Homo sapiens: one gene and its partner. The protein of the gene in region 1 interacts with the protein of each later gene in a pairwise test. Each region holds a gene or a part of one and is shown on either strand. Other genes may lie near its edges.

Region 1 (8,005 bases):
CAAATGTCATAACTCAGTTCGTTCATGGATCACCAGTGTTCTAATCCTTTCCCCATATGGATCTTCTAGATGAGGGTTTGAATCCAGTCAGTTAGGAGAATCAATTGATAATCCGCTGATAAACTCAAGAATATCAGTGGTGAGATTGGTCTATTTAAAAAAAACATATATCTCCAAAATTATTTATAACTTTTGGCTGGGCCACTGGGCCAGGCGCAGTGGCTCACTCCTGTAATCCCAGCATTTTGGGAGGCCAAGGTGAGAGGACTGCTTGAGGCCAGGAGTTTGAGACCAGCCTTGGCAATATAGTGAGACCCCATCGCTACAAAAAAAGTTTTTTTTAATTAGCTGGCCATGGTGGCACACACCTATACTCTCAGCTACTTGGGGGCTGGTTAGGGAGGTGAGGTGGGAGGATCACTTGAGCCCGGGAGTTTGGGGCTGCAGTGAGCCATGATCATGCCACTGTACTCCAGCCTGGGCAACAAAGAGACACCCTGTCTCAAAAAAAAAAAAAAAAGTCCAAGAGATGAATTAAATTCATGATTAGATGCTGACCTAATCACTTCACTACCTGTATAAATTCTTTACTCACCTCCTCTTTTTTTTTCTCTTTAAAGAAGTGATTAAAGCTCTTTATATTGTGGTTACCATAGACCCAACCTCCCCATCTACTTTTTTCTCATGGCTGAAAACTAAGATAAGCAAAAGTCATTACAGTTATCATGGGATGGTTGCCCCAAGGATGATCCAAGTTTCTTTGGTTATTTCGGCAACCAGGACCTCAGTTTCTTTTTCTTCACAGTGGCATACTGTGCAAATTTTACCAACGCTGAACTGGTATTTGTCAATACTTGACTTTGCAGGAAGCTAGAGCTCTCTAGTTATTTATAATCTGTTTGTGTTTTGTCGTTGCTTAGAACTAACTACTCTTAAAGGGATTAGATATTTTTCTTTCTCCAGTTAAAAATATTTTGAACATTCAAAATATGTAAAACAGAATTTAAACATTGGGATGTGATGCTTGTCATTGAAGGTTCTATGTTATTGTACATCAATAAAGATGAACTTTAGGCTTTTTTTCTGGCATAAAGAGTGATTTGTTCAAGTTTTTATATGCCTTGGTTCTATGTTTAACAAACTTCTATAAAAAATTCAAATCTTAATTTTGATTAACGATGTTGTAGAAGTTCAAGGAAAGAAGTCATCCACTGTCTCTACACTAAAGCTTTCGGAAGGCCAGCGCCTGAGCAGTTTGACCTTTGGGTGCTTTTTATCTCGAGCAAGGAGTCCTCCTCAAGTAGTAAAATCTGAGGAAATGAGCAAGATATCATCGAAAGAACCTGAGTTCACTGAAGGAAAAGACATGGAAGGTATTTATGAACTACAGGAATTGACTTTGGCATTTTTTAAAAAGGAAGACTCATTTGCTAAGATTAATCCAAATATAGCTTAATTTTCCTTATTTTTTTCTGACAATTTGATGTTTTATGAGAATGTTTCTAAAGAGCAATACAACATTTAACTTTGTGTGTCTAATTATTTTGTGTTTTCTGAGAGCCTTTGCATAGGAGAAACTGATTTTTCCTTCGTAATATATTTTTCCTGCTGTAGGTGGAAGGTGGGTATTTAAAATTAAAAAGTTTACTGTCCCATCTGCAAGATGCTGTACTTGTTTTAGCTGAGTTTCAGATTAGAACTGTGAATTTCCTATTCATTATTTATTTAAAATATAAAACATTACTTAATATTACACATAAAACATTATTTAAAATATAAAACATTACTTAATATTACACATGAAATTAAACATTGGCATAGCAAACTTCTAAAGAAAAAAACCCTAGGGGATAAATTGATAACTCTTTGATTTTCCTTTAATCCTTCCAAGAGGAAAATGTTTTCCTAGATATTTAAACCCTGGTCCTGTATACAGATTTCTACTCTTCTTCTTTTAGTCTTGAAGTGCTTCTATCAAAAAAAAAGAAAAAATCCATCTAAATTTTGCTTTGTTGTAGCTGTTGGCTTTGCCACCTCTAGCACAATCACTTTTGTTGACTTTCCCCAAATATTTTAGAGAGGCCTGAGTTTTCATCCTCTCTACTTTCAGCTCCAACTTCCTTCCCCCAGAAGAGAAAAAGTATAACAGTAAAAGTTGTCTCTATGCTTGGTTATGAAATTCTGAAAATGATACATTTTCCAATCCGAAGGCTCCTTTGCTCCTTGCTTTCATGCCATTACTCGCTTTGCTCTTCTCTTCTCTCTCTCTTTTTTTTTTTTTTGAGACAGGATCTCACTCTGTCTCCCAGGCCGGAGTGCAGTGGCACGATCACAGCTCACTGCGGCCTTGACCTCCCAGACTCAAGTGATCCTCCCACCTCAGCATCCCTAGTAGCCAGGACTATAGACACATGCCACCATGCCTAGTTAATTTTTGTATTTTTTGTAGAGATGGGGTTTCACCATGTTGCTCAGGCTGGCCTTGAGCTCCTGGGCTCAAGCAATCTGCCAGCCTTGGCCTCCCAAAAGTGCTGGATTTACCGGTGTGAGCCACTGCACCCGGCCTACTTGCATCTTTTTTTTGCCTTTTGAGAAGCCATTTTCATTTCCTTCCCTTTTTCTAATAGTGGAGTACAGCTGAGATTGCTTGTACTGATGCTCTTGCTCATTTGCAAATTTAACAAACTTCCTAATACCGAATTTTAGAGTTTATTTGTTCAGCCTCTAGTTCCTTAATTATGAAGGTCCTGTCTATGTTTTCATGTTTTCAAAGTTTCTTTTCTACACTTCAGTCTAAAAGTTTAATTCCTTGTTTATGAAGCCAATGGTTCATTCTGTTAATTATGTTATACATAAAAATAAACCATATCTAAAGATATTTTTAAAGAGTGTTATTCTTATTATAAAAACACATTTTGTAGTTATGATTAAACCAAAAGTAGAGCAAGGAAAGCTTTTCTGTGTTTATATTTTCTTCATGATTTTGCATATCTCAATGTATCGAAGTTTGGTGCAAGGTCTGTTTATTAAACTATAGCTTTGTATTTATTATGCTTAAATTTACTTCATTATAATCTAAATATTTAGTTGAAAGGAGGTGTCATTTTCTTTCCTTCTAAAATAGAATTCATGCTGTTCATTTTTTTGGTGACTGCTTTCTTTGATAGTGAAAGTTGCCCTGTTTCACATTTTGCTTCTTTTATTATCTCTCTTTAGACTCTCAGTTTTTTTTTTCCCAACATGTTTTTTTGTAAAAACCAATTTGGAAACTATTATATTGACATGTTAGGGCTCTGAGTTTTATATAAAGCTTATAGTTTTCAAAAACTTGTGTTTAAAAAAGACATAAGACTAACACAGGATAATGTAAATTATTTGTATGAAATTTTTGGTTTATTCCTTTAAAAAAAATAGAGGCAGGGTCTTGCTCTGTCACCCAGGCTGGAGTGCAGTGGCTGATCATAGCTCACTGCAGACTTCAGCTCCTGGGCTCAAGCAATCATCCTGCCTCAGCCTCCCAAGTAGCTGGGACTACAGGTACACACCACTGCACCCAGCAAATTTCTACAGTGTCAATTTCTACAGTGTAGCTACATAAAGCTAAATGTACAGAAAGATTATATTCTTAAAGGCAGCATGCTGATATGATGTATCCTTTTCTAGAAATGGAAATTCCAGAAAAGTCTGTTGATAACCAAGTTCTAGAAAACAACAGAGGCCAGAGAACATTGCATCAAACCCCTTGTGGCTCAGAACAGAATCGGAAAACAAGAACAAGCTTTGCCACAGATGGTGGCATCTCCCAGAATTCTGGGGCTCCTGTGAGTGACTGGAGCTCTGATGAGGAAGACGGGAGCAAAGGAAGATCCAAGTCCAGATGCACATCCACCCTCTCCAGTCACACATCTGAGGAAGGGGTCCAGTGTAGCAGGATGGGAAGTGAAATGTATCTGACAGCATCTGATGACAGCAGCTCTATATTTGAGGAAGAGACTTTTGGCATAAAGAGACCAGAACACAAGAAGCTATATTCTTGGCAGCAGGAGGCACAGTGGAAAGCTCTAAATAGTCCTCTTGGAAAGGGAAATTCTGAATTAAGTAAAAAGGAACAAGATAGTTCCTCGGATGAACTGAATAAAAAATTTCAATCCCAGAGACTCGATTATTCATCTTCATCGAGTGAAGCCAACACCCCAAGCCCTATTTTGACCCCAGCTTTAATGCCAAAGCATCCTAACTCACTCTCTGGAAAAGGAACACAATTAGTGCCTTCATCACACCTGCCACCCCCAAAGTTAAGGATTCCTAATGTTTTCAGTATAAGTGTAGCACTAGCCAAAAGGCACTTAAGCCAGCCACAGTTAAGCTCTGACAGGATGTTTGGTACAAATAGAAACGCTATAAGCATGATACGACCACTGAGACCTCAGGAAACTGATCTTGATCTAGTTGATGGAGACAGTACAGAAGTTTTAGAGAATATGGACACGAGTTGTGATGATGGATTATTTTCCTATGACTCCTTGGACTCTCCAAATTCAGATGACCAGGAACACTGTGACTCAGCAAAGAAGGTGGCATACAGCAAACCTCCAACTCCTCCCCTGCACCGTTTTCCTTCTTGGGTAATTATATCACCGCATGTAACACATACGCAGTAGTTTTTTTCTCAACACTTTTTTTTTCTGGGAGGGAGTCTCGCTCTGTCGCCCAAGCTGGAGTGCAGTGGCGCGATCTTGGCTCACTGCAACCTCCATCTCCCGGGTTCAAGTGATTCTCCTGCCTCAGCCTCCTGAGTAGCTGATACAGGCATGCACTACCATGCCTGGCTAATTTTTGTATTTTTGGTAGAGACGGGGTTTCGCCATGTTGGCCAGGCTGGTCTTGAACTCCTGACCTCAAGTGATCCACCTGCCTTTGCCTCCCAAAGTGTCCACACTCATTTTCAAGTTTTACTTTTTCTTTTCTTCTTTCCTTTCAAATCCAGCTTTGTTCTGACGTTTTCCAGTTTTTAGGATAAAATTTCTTCTTCTCTTCCCTCACTGAGTTCTGAATCAATTGAGAAATAAGATAATGACAAGACAGATGGGAGATCAAGGTATTACCTTATTTACTGATAAAACTAATTTTAGAGAATTAGTGGGCAAATGAGCTTTCTAATACTGAACTTTGAGATTAGCTGGATTGAGTCACCTGTTCCCAGGAAGCCCTGGACCACCACAGGATTCTGCTACTGAAGCCATGCCCCTCTAAAACTTACTACCTCAAAAAACAGAACAGATGGTTGTTTCCTGCAGGCAGCTACTTCTCAAGAGAAAGGGGAGAGGAAGTTGCCAGGCTCTGCATGCCCAGTTTCTCCTTCTCAGCTTACCAATCACATTAAGCCACTCTTCCTCTTGGGGAGGGGAAAGTGAATAGGTGGAGAGGGATCAGCAGTGTTCAATTACTGGAGGTTCCTCCATGTGGAAGGAAACATTGGAGGTGGGAAAGAAGGGTTCCCCCTAACTGTGATATTTTGGGTGAATTCTGAACCGGGACACTTAACTCTTGTTAGTTATAAGTTTTTGAACTTAGTCGTTATTTGATTGGCTTTAAGATAAATTTAATTTTCTTTTTGAGCTTATATAGCCATTGGTTTCCAAAGTATCTTTCTACAGACCTAGAATAGATAAAATCTTCTTCCATTGAAACATTGACCATTAGTAGGATAACACTGCTAGACTAAAAAAAAAAAAAAATTCTTCCAATATTTGAAATAAAATGAAATGATCTGTTTAATTTTAATTTTTTTTTTTTTTTTTGAGATGAAGTTTCACTCTTGTCTCCCGGGCTAGAGTGCAATGGCGCCATCTCAGCTCACTGCAACCTCTGCCACCTGGGTTCAGGCAATTCTCCTGCCTTAGCCTCCCAAGTAGCTGGAACTACAGACGTTTACCACCACACCTGGCTAATTTTTTGTATTTTTAGTAGAGGTGGGGTTTCACCATGTTGGCCAGGCTGGTCTTGAATGCCTGACTTCAGGTGATCCACCCACCTCAGCCTCCCAAAGTGCTGGGATTACAGGCGTGTCACGCCACTGCACCTGGTCTGAAATGATCTGTTATAGATTTAAGTTTTTCTTCACATGCTGGCATAATTTAACCTTTGGCCTCCAGAGAAACATCTGGGTTGCAGGACTCTTTTGGTTTTTGGAGTCATGTTCTTTTATTACTATATTTTTTATTTTGTGACTGATGCAGTTTTAAGCAAATTAGGGTGGACATGTTTTTCTAATATAAATTCAGAACTTAAGATGTATGTGCTCTTATTTGCTTTCAAGAGGACATTTTATTTCAATATCCACATGAAACCTTCTGTAGTTTATTACTAAATTTTGGATAGCACAGGAAAGTGGAAGTTAATGGCATGTGAATCTCTGGAATTCTAATTATGTTATACTTTAGGCAGCAAGAAATTGAAATTTTGCCTATCTTATGATGTTGAGATTTTCAGAGATTTAGGTTAGGCTTTTAAGTTCGTTTTATTTGGCAACCCATTCTACTACTTTTTTTTTTTTTTTTTTTTTTCCATTCTGTCTTCTCTTACTCTTTTGAAGCTATTCGGTCCTGAAAAAGTAGTATTGCTTTTCAAAAGCCTTCCAGCAGACTGGCCAAGTCTGAGATTTTATTTCTGTGTTTATTAGGTATTTTCAGGTTTCAAGGAAAAGAGATGTATTCTAATTGCCTCAATAAATATGAGTTTATTTTAAAAATTTCTAAGAGCTTATTTTAAGGCATAGCCTATCCTTATTGAACTGGAATACCATGCAAATTACAATAGTCACTCTAGAGGGACAACATGTGATAGTCAGCAGTACCTCCGATAGAAACAAGTGACATCCATTGCCCCTGCTCCCAGTGGCTCAGCTTGTCCTCCCAGGCCTCCAGTCCCCTCTCTCTAATTCTACTACTAACCACTTTCCCCCAGTCTCCTAGGGCTTCAGACTGCCTCCCGTCTCCTGCTTACTGCCCTTATTGTTATATGTCTTTCTGTTGCTGTTTGTGTGTGGGTGTATCTCACACTCAAAGAAACTACATCTGATTCACTCAGCCAGGCACTATTCAATCGAAAATGTCCCTGATAGTCGGAGAACTCATGCCAGTTGCCTCTCAAGCCACTGGCTGTCTTGAAGAGGATGGCCTTAGTTGCCCACTGTGTCCTGGACAGTCAACTGTGTCCAAGTTAGACCCATTATTAAATTCAGGACATGTTGCTCTATGCATTAGGAACCACCTGTGGTCCCTTTTCTCAAGGGAGCAGGGCTAGTAACCTGTCCAGTACCTGTTTCAGAGATTTTTCAGAAGAGAAGAGAAAACAAAATAATCTACTTTTGGAACAAGATAATATAAATTCCATTGCAATTCTCATATTCATTTCTTGTTTGACTTTAGGTATCTCTTCTACTTGAGTGAAATGTACATTGACATAGGAAGGCGATAGCATTTAATGCTACTGTATCTATGACTTCTGACTTCAGGTTTTTCCATTCTTTGTTTAACCATGTTCCAGAATAGTAGAATATTAAAAGTGGTGTTTATGTGTAATCAATGATTGAGAATGGTTTCTAGCTTAATGTTATAGCCACTCATGGTTTTTCTCCCCACCGCCAACCATATTCTAGAATGGTAAGAATATTAAAGGTGGTGTTTATGTGTAGTCAGTGATTGTGAAAAAGCTTTCTCTTACTTTTTCTTCACGTCTTCAAAATAATTTATCAAACAAAAATGTGGGAAAAAGATAAATAATGGAAAAACTAACAGATGGAGAAAAATCTCAACAGTACTATTCACAATGGCATATTTTAGTTGGCACCGATGATGGTTTTATAATAATGCTGTACTCTAGTGAATCTTAAATGAAGAACAAATGAAAAACATGTGTATTGAAAGTAGTCTTTTTTTTTTTTTTTTTTTTTTTTTGCTTTAAATACCCTGTTCAAACTCTCTCTTTTACCCTAGGAAAGCAG
Region 2 (8,005 bases), on another chromosome or scaffold:
AACCACAAAAATTAGCTGGGCATGGTGGCGGGCGCCTGTAGTCCCAGCTACTCAGGAGGCTGAGGCAGAAGAATCACTTGAACCCGGGAGGCGGAGGTTGCAGTGAGCCAAGATCATGCCACTGCACTCCAGCCTGGGTGACAGAGAAAGACTCTGTCTCAAAAAAGATAATAATAAATTTAAAAATAAATAAAATAAAAAGGAGCAAAGTAAAAAAGTTAGTAAGTGCAGGTCAGGCACAATGGCTCACATCTGTAATTCCAACACTTTGGGAGGCCGAGGTGGGCGGATTACCTGAGCTCAGGAGTTCGAGACCAGCCTGGCCAACATGGCAAACGAAACCCCATCTCTACCAAAAATACAAAATTAGCCAGGTATGGTGGTGTGTGCCTGTAATCTCAGCTACTGCGGACTGCGGGGGGTTGGGGGGGGTGGGGCGGAGGCAGGAGGATCGCTTGACCCTGGGAGACAGAGGTTGCAGTGAGCCAAGATCATGCCACTGTACTCCATTCTGGGCGGCAGAGCAAGACTCTCTAAAAAACAAAACAAAAAACTGAAGTTAGTAAAAGCAGAAAAGTAAAAAGAGGGAAACAGGCAAGACACATGGTGGCTCACACTTATAATACCAGCACTTTGGAAAGCCAAGGCAGAAGGATTGCTTGAGGCCAGGAGTTCGAGACCAGCCTGAGAAACATAATGAGACTCCGGCTGTATAAAAAATAAAAAATTGGCCAGGCATGGTGGCACGTGCCTGTAGTCCCAGCTGCTCAGGAGGCTGAGGGCAGGAGGATCGCTTGAGTTGGAGGTTACAGTGAGCTGTGATCAGATCACTGTACTTCATCCTGGGCAAGAGAACAAGACCCTGTGAGAAAAGAGAAAGAAGAGAAGAGAAGGAGAGGAGAAAAACGGAACCAGAAGAAAAAGGAGAGCCAGGTGGACCTGCAGATGGGGACATCGGGGCCACATGGGGCCACAGCCATCTACACTGACAGAAGATGATGACCATGAGGTATAAAAGGGGGTAGAAAGATGGGGACGTGGGGGGTGGAGTAAAGCGTGAGCAAATAGAGGCCATCCTTGAGGATCTGTCTACTATGTGCTAAGCACCTCACTCAGTCTCCCAACAATGTGGAAGGCAGGCATTACACCCATTTCATAGCCTGCTTTCAATAGGGTTTTTTTTTGTTGTTGTTGTTGTTTTTGAGACGGAATCTCGCTCTGTCACCCAGGCTGGAGTGCAGTGGCCTGATCTTGGCTCACCGCAACCTCCGCCTCCCAGGTTCAAGGAATTCTCCTGCCTCAGCCTCCCGAGTAGCTGGGATTACAAGCATGCGCCACCACGCCCAGCTAATTTTGTATTTTAGTAGAGATGGGGTTTCTCCATGTTGGTCAAGCTGGTCTCGAACTCCCAACTTCAGGCCTCAGGTGTTCCACCTGCCTCAGCCTCCCAAGGCTGGGATTACAGGCATGAGCCACCGCGCCTGGCCTCAGTAGGGTTTTTATGTTTTAGAAGAGGCCAAAGTCTCCAAGGCTCATTCAAAACAATACACACAGACCGGGATCCAGAAGAGAATCGGCCTGAAGCTCCCTGGAGCTCCCTGGAGGGTTCCACCCCCCTTGCTCCAGCTCACCCAGAGTTCTACGATTCAAAACAGCTGGAAATGTGTGCCCTGCTCTCCCCAACAAGAAAACAGAACAGAACATGGCTGTTTCTGCCAAGCGAATTCTGAATAAGCTGCATTCCATTTCATTAAAACAATTACCTGAGCTCCAGCCAAGAATTACATAAAGCTTCCTCCCAGCATCACCCCCTCCCCCATAAAACACACATCATGCTGCTTTCAAATAGGCAGAGTGAAGCTCTGAGCCCTCGCTAGAAGACCTCATAGTCCTCGCCAAGTGGCCAGCCTCGGCATCTCTGCACGCTGACATAGATGACATGAGGCTGAAAGAAGACCTTGGCATGAAGCCCTCCCCTCATGAGAGCCTGCTGGCTGCCCGAAATGTTTCTAGTAGGCACCAGGGCCCTCACCTCTGCCTCAGAGCCAAGAGGGCCACTGGTGCCAGAATCCAGCTATTTCCCCAAAACAGACTGGAGGTCCAAGAGGGCCAGCTTTGAGTCAGCACAAACTAGACAGGAGGGACCAAGGGAGTGGGGATTCCAGGAGGGGGAGCCTGAAGGCTGGAAAACTGGATGGTCAGACTTGAGCTATAAGCAAAAGCCTGGGGACACTCAGCCATCACTGCCCACAGGTTAATGGTGTTCCACTGGCCACAGATAAGGGGTTCATGATGTGAGGCAAAAGACATCTCCTCCCCGCCCACAGGCCTCAAGCTGCCCAGAGACCGTTCCCTGAATTATGTAAAGCCTTGCTGTGGCTGGGCACCGTGGCTCACACCTGTAATCCCAGCACTTTGGGAGGCCAAGGCGGGCGGATCACCTGAGGTCAGGAGTTCGAGACCAGGCTGGCCAACATGGTGAAACCCCATCTCTACTAAAATTACAAAAATTAGTCAGGCGTGATGACGCACGCCCATAATCCTAGCTACTGCGGAGGCTGAGGCACAAGAATCACTTGAACCTGGGAGGCAGAGGTTGCAGTGAGCCAAGATCACACCATTGCACTCCAGCCTGGGTGACAGAGTAAGACTCCGTCTCAAAAAAAAAAAAAAAAGTCTTGCTCTGCATCCCATCAGCCTAGACAACCCATCTCAAACTCCAACCAGAGTTCGGCATCTCACATGCTTCAACCCTGGTCTGATTAATGTCATCATGCTCAAATAACTCATGAGGCTGCCTCCACACCTATGGACACACACTGTCTCTGGGCCTGTCTTTTTTCTGCACAGGTCACAGCACTGTGCTCCCCATTTCCCAGATGATAGTCAGCAGTCACTGTCACCTGAGGCCCCCCCAGCTACTGTCTCTGCTCACCCAGTCTTCCCACCACCTGCTCAATCACAGGAGACCAGCAGTCATTCAGGCCAACCATAGGCAGGCGCAGGCCAGCACCTAGGCCCAACAACTCCAAGCCCATCATGGAAAAGCAGGGTTTCCTTACTTTTCTCCAACTTTTCATTATAAAAATGTCTAAGCACACAGAGAAGTTGAGAGGCCCGGGTACTCTCACTTAGATTGAATGGCTGTCATTGTTTTACCACTTTGTGTAAACGCATGGCCCTTGTGCTCTCTGCCCTTTATGTGTATATCCTTTTTTTCATTATATCATTTAAAACTAAGTTGAGCTGGGTGCAGTGGCTCACACCTGTAATCTCAGCACTTTGGGAGGCCGAGGTGGGTGGATCACCTGAGGTCGGGAGTTTGAGACCAGCCTGACCAGCCTGACCAACATGGAGAAACCTGGTTTCTACTAAAAATAAAAAAATTAGCCAGGCGTGGTGGTGCATGCCTGTAATCCCAGCTACTCGGGAGACTGAGGCAGCAGAATCGCTTGAACCCAGGAGGCAGAGGTTGTAGTGAGCTGAGATGGTGCCACTGCACTCCAGCCTGGGCAACAAGAGCAAAACTCTGCCTCAAAACAAACAAACAAAAAAAAACAAATAAAACTAAGTTGAGGCCAGGTGGGGTAGCTCACACCTGTAATCCCAGCACTTTGGGAGGCTGAGGCAGGTGGATCACCTGAGGTCAGGAGTTGAAGACCAGCCTAAACAATATGGTGAAACCCCACCTCTACTAAAAATACAAAAATTAGCCGGGTGTGGTGGCATGCACCCATAGTCCCAGCTACTCAGGAGGCTGAGACAGGAGAATTGCTTAAGCCCAGGAGGCGGAGGTTGCAGTGAGCCAAGATCGCGCTGCTGCACTCCAGCCTGGGTGACAGGGCAAGACTCTGCCTCAAAAATAAAAAATGAAAAAATAAAAATAAGTTGCAAGACATCATGACACTTCACTCCTAAATACTTTAGCATGCACCTAACAATAACAATATTCTCCCATAAAACCACAATACCACAATCACACAAGAAATAAGCATTAAAAGTCCGTCTTTAAGGGAAGATTTGGCCACTGGGGTTCCACTGGGCCTGGCCAACCGCATGTTCTGTCTACCACTGGCCCAGCATCCAAGGCCTCCCTGGAGAGGCCAGCCCTGAGCACCACTGGTTAGGCAATCGGTTAGTTAGTTGGAAGACTTATCAGGGTATGAATGTACACTCAAGGCCAGATATGAGACTCCCAACAAGACCCAGACTGCAAAAGGCAGAGTGGACCCCGTGAGGCTGTCGATGGAGTCTCAGGGCCCATCCCAGGTGAGGAGGGCACCCTGAAGCCATTTCCATGACTTGCTTTGTGAACATTTCTGAGAAAACTCAGCTTCCTGATTCTCTCTTCCTCTCCCCCTCCCATAGGACATCCTTCATTCTCCACCATAAAGTTTTCAACAACTCCCTCCTCTGGATACGGGAAAGACAAGGAGCATGTTCGGGTGCAGCGGGGCTGGGGGCACAGGAAGGCTTCTGATTCCTGAGCAGAGGAGGTGGCAAGGGACCACAGGGGACCTGCCCCAGGTTCTCCTTGGCAGTGGTGCTGTAAGCTCACTGCTCTGTCTCAAGAGTAACAGGTGACTGGAGAGGTGACCAGGGAGGGAGGATTGGGGCCTCCCCTGGAACAGGAGACACTCCCCCCAGGACCCTGCATCCCATCCTGAGTGTGTGTCCCCAAGAAAGAACAAAAAGGCCGGGTGCAGTGGCTCACGCCTGTAATGCCAACACTTTGGGAGGCCGAGGCGGGTGGATCACCTGAAGTCGGGAGTTCGAGACCAGCCTGACCAACATGGAGAAACTCCGTCTCTACTAAAAATACAAAATTAGCTGGGCATGGTGGCTCATGCCCCCAGCTACTTGGGGGACTGAGGCAGGAGAATCGCTTGAACCTGGGAGGTGGAGGTTGTGGTGAGCCGAGATCATGCCATTGCCCTCCAGCCTGGGCAATAAGAGTGAAACTCAGGAAAAAAAAAAAAAAGAACAAAAGACAGACAAGAAGCTGCAGAGAACAGGGAAATGACAGATGTGGAAGACAACAGAGAATAGGGTGGGTGCAGAAAAATGTTAGTGTCCTAGAAACAGAAAACAGTCAAACCAATGGGCAACCCATATCAGATGCAGTATTATGAACAGAAGTGTAAAGAATGCACCAGGCACAATGGCTCATGCCTGTAATCCCAGCATTTTGGGAGGTTGATGCAGGCACATTGCTTGAGGCCAGGTGTTCAAGAACAGCCTGGGAAACATGGTGAAACCCTGTCTCCACAAAAAATTTCAAAAATTAGCGGGGCGTTACGGCATATGCCTGTAGTCCTAGCTACTCGGGAGGCTGAGGGAAGAGGAACACTTGGGCCTGGGAGGCAGAGGCTGCAGACCCTGTCTCCAAAAAAAAGTGTACAAAACAGTTGGCTGCAAGTCCCGCTCAGCAGCCAGACCACCTGGATTCAAATCCTAGCACTGCCATTCACTAGTTGTAGAACTTGGGCAAGTGGGCTCACCTCTCTGTGTCTCAGTTTCCTCACTTATAAAACAGGTAGTAGTAATACGACTACTAATAAAACCTGCCTCATATGGCCAGCTTGATTCAAGCAAACAATGCATGTAAAGTGCCCAGCACAGTGCCTGCACATAATAAGAGCTCAATAAATATTATGAGAAAAAGTTCTGTAAACACTGTAAAAAAGAAAAGTACCCCCTAGGCCAGAGTGCAGTGATGCGATCTCGGCTTACTGCAATCTCTGCCTCCCGGGTTCAAGCGATTCTCCTGCCTCAGCCTCCTGAGTAGCTGAGACTACAGGCACGCGCCACCACGCCCAGCTAATTTTTGTATTTTTAGTAGAGATTGGGTTTCACCACATTGGCCAGGCTGGTCTTGAACTCCTGACCTCAAAAGATGCACCCACTTCAGCCTCCCAAAGTGCTGGGATTACAGGTGTGAGCCACCATGCCCGGCAGATTTTGTTATTATTAATGAAGGCACTGAGACTAGGATGATCCCCGGAAAGGCTGCAATGAGGCTGGAAGTTTATTCAACATCTCTGGAGCGAGGTAAAGACGCAAGAGAAGCTTCAGAGTCAGATACTCCAAGCAGGATGACTAAATAGGAGAGGAGGGCTGCTCAGTGGCCCACCAATAACTCTGGCCTTCCATCAGCCTCTCCAGCCAAGGGTACACCCAGTCTCTTCAATGCATGACCATCACTAGGGAAGCTGGAAAAAAGGAATACTGAGATATTCCCTCAAAAGACCTTGAACCTATAGTGACAGGGCTTTGGGTTCCAGTAGGCTGAGCATTTCTCCATCAAGCTATGTCTGCCCAGGCAGCAGACAGCTTCACATATCAGAAAGTGTACCCGCTGAAGAATCAAACCCACCAAGGTTTGAATCCCAGCTCTGCCCCTTACTAGCACAAGCCCAGGAGAAGGTCTGGCACTGATGCAGAGCCCACCAGGAGGGCACTATCGCTGCATGGGTAAATGCCGCCTCTGCCACACGCCCAGCAGCTGGGTGCCCTGACTCTGCCCTAACACACAGAGGGACCACAGACAGGAAAGCCCAAAGTCCAGACTTTCCATGGAAACAGGGAGGCTCCATAGCTCCCAATGCCCCAGGCAACTCCTCTGCCCCCCTAGCACTACCCCCAAGGACAATGAGGCACTGTTTTCCAAAGGGTCAAGACTGCTGAGAAGCTGAAAGAAGACATGTCCAGATTCCAGCAGCAACTGGGCACTGCCAACAGCTGGCTGTTCCCCCTGCTAGAGGATGGGAAGGCAAAGCTACCCAGTCTTGCACTGGACACACCCTTTGCCATTTCCTGGGATGGGCCCCTAGGGCAGAGATTGTTAAAGGTAACTATCAATTACTCAGCAGGCCCCAAGGCTCATCCCCCTGGTTAGTCACCAGCACCTACCACCTTATGATGATTAAGATAACCGGATCTGGAATTGGATGAGCCTGGGTTCAAATCCCAGCACTACCACTAAACTTCCCTGAGCTCAGGTTTCCACATGTATAAAGTGGAGCGAAAACACCTCCCTTTCTGAAAGGTTGTGATACAGCTCGTAAAGTGCTGAGTACAGTGCCTGTCTCCCATGAAGCGCACATGATCATGATTAGACCACAGTTGTGGTCAAAGCCCCCACCAAGTACACTGAGAACATGAACAGAGGAAGAGCAAGCAATCGGGTTAGAAAACACAGTCAGAGTGCATCTCAGTGTTGTGGGAACTCTGTCCAGGAAACTCCGGCCAGAACTTGAACAGAGCGAACTCTGGGCCAAACCAGCATCTAAACAGTAATAAGAAAAGCCACCAAGCAGCCACCCCAAAGAACAAAGTGGAGAGAACACACAGGGAAGGGCAGAACACGCTGTGTTGATATTTTTCTGCTCAGAGAGCTATAAATTTGTAACTTATTAAGCAGCACATGGTGAGTCTGTCATTGGCAACTATGGGAAGGAGAAGAGTTCCCCATTTTTTATTAGACCAAAAAACAAAGTCACAGAGGAGGTGATGCACCCTCTGGCCTTGCTACCGGACACACCATAAACTCTCCCCTGTGTTAGGGACCAGGAGGCACACGGCTGAGAGCACGCTCAGGAGAAAAATAAAAACAAGAGGTCTGGGCTTTGTGTCCACCCTAAGGAAAACAGCTGAGCCACCCTAAGGAAAACAGCTGATGGCAGTGTGCTGAGCCGCCATCCAGACAGCTGACGGGGCCCCAGTGCAAAGGCAAATTCCTCTCCCCTCCTGCACACCCCATTCCTCCCACCCCAGGCTCCGGTCAGTCAGGCGTGGCTTGCCCCTTGGGAGCTCAGGCCAAGGAAGTCGGGCAGCCCGGATGTAAGCAACTGGGAGTCTATGGTAGAAAGCAGTAGAAGTTACAGGTGATCGCCATCACCCAGTGGCAACCCCTCCTTCAAGTGCCCTTGCCTCCTCCCCAGGAAAAAAAGTCTTCTCGGTATACAAGAGCCACAGATCTGGGAGCTAGGAATTGGGCTTCCAG

Evidence for each region.
Region 2: the proteins of PLEKHH2 (region 1) and PXN interact in binary tests that used the Homo sapiens proteins (3 or more experiments, as listed by UniProt).

Annotation. Positions count from the first base shown.
Region 1 is NC_000002.12:43,695,984-43,703,988, forward strand, and holds part of PLEKHH2 (pleckstrin homology domain-containing family H member 2), read left to right. Parts: intron 1-1,187; coding exon 1,188-1,373; intron 1,374-3,663; coding exon 3,664-4,625; intron 4,626-5,026; exon of another isoform or gene 5,027-5,098; intron 5,099-7,997; coding exon 7,998-8,005. UniProt on the Homo sapiens protein: In the kidney glomerulus may play a role in linking podocyte foot processes to the glomerular basement membrane. May be involved in stabilization of F-actin by attenuating its depolymerization. Can recruit TGFB1I1 from focal adhesions to podocyte lamellipodia.
Region 2 is NC_000012.12:120,255,534-120,263,538, forward strand, and holds part of PXN (paxillin), read right to left. Parts: intron 1-8,005. UniProt on the Homo sapiens protein: Cytoskeletal protein involved in actin-membrane attachment at sites of cell adhesion to the extracellular matrix (focal adhesion). Recruits other proteins such as TRIM15 to focal adhesion.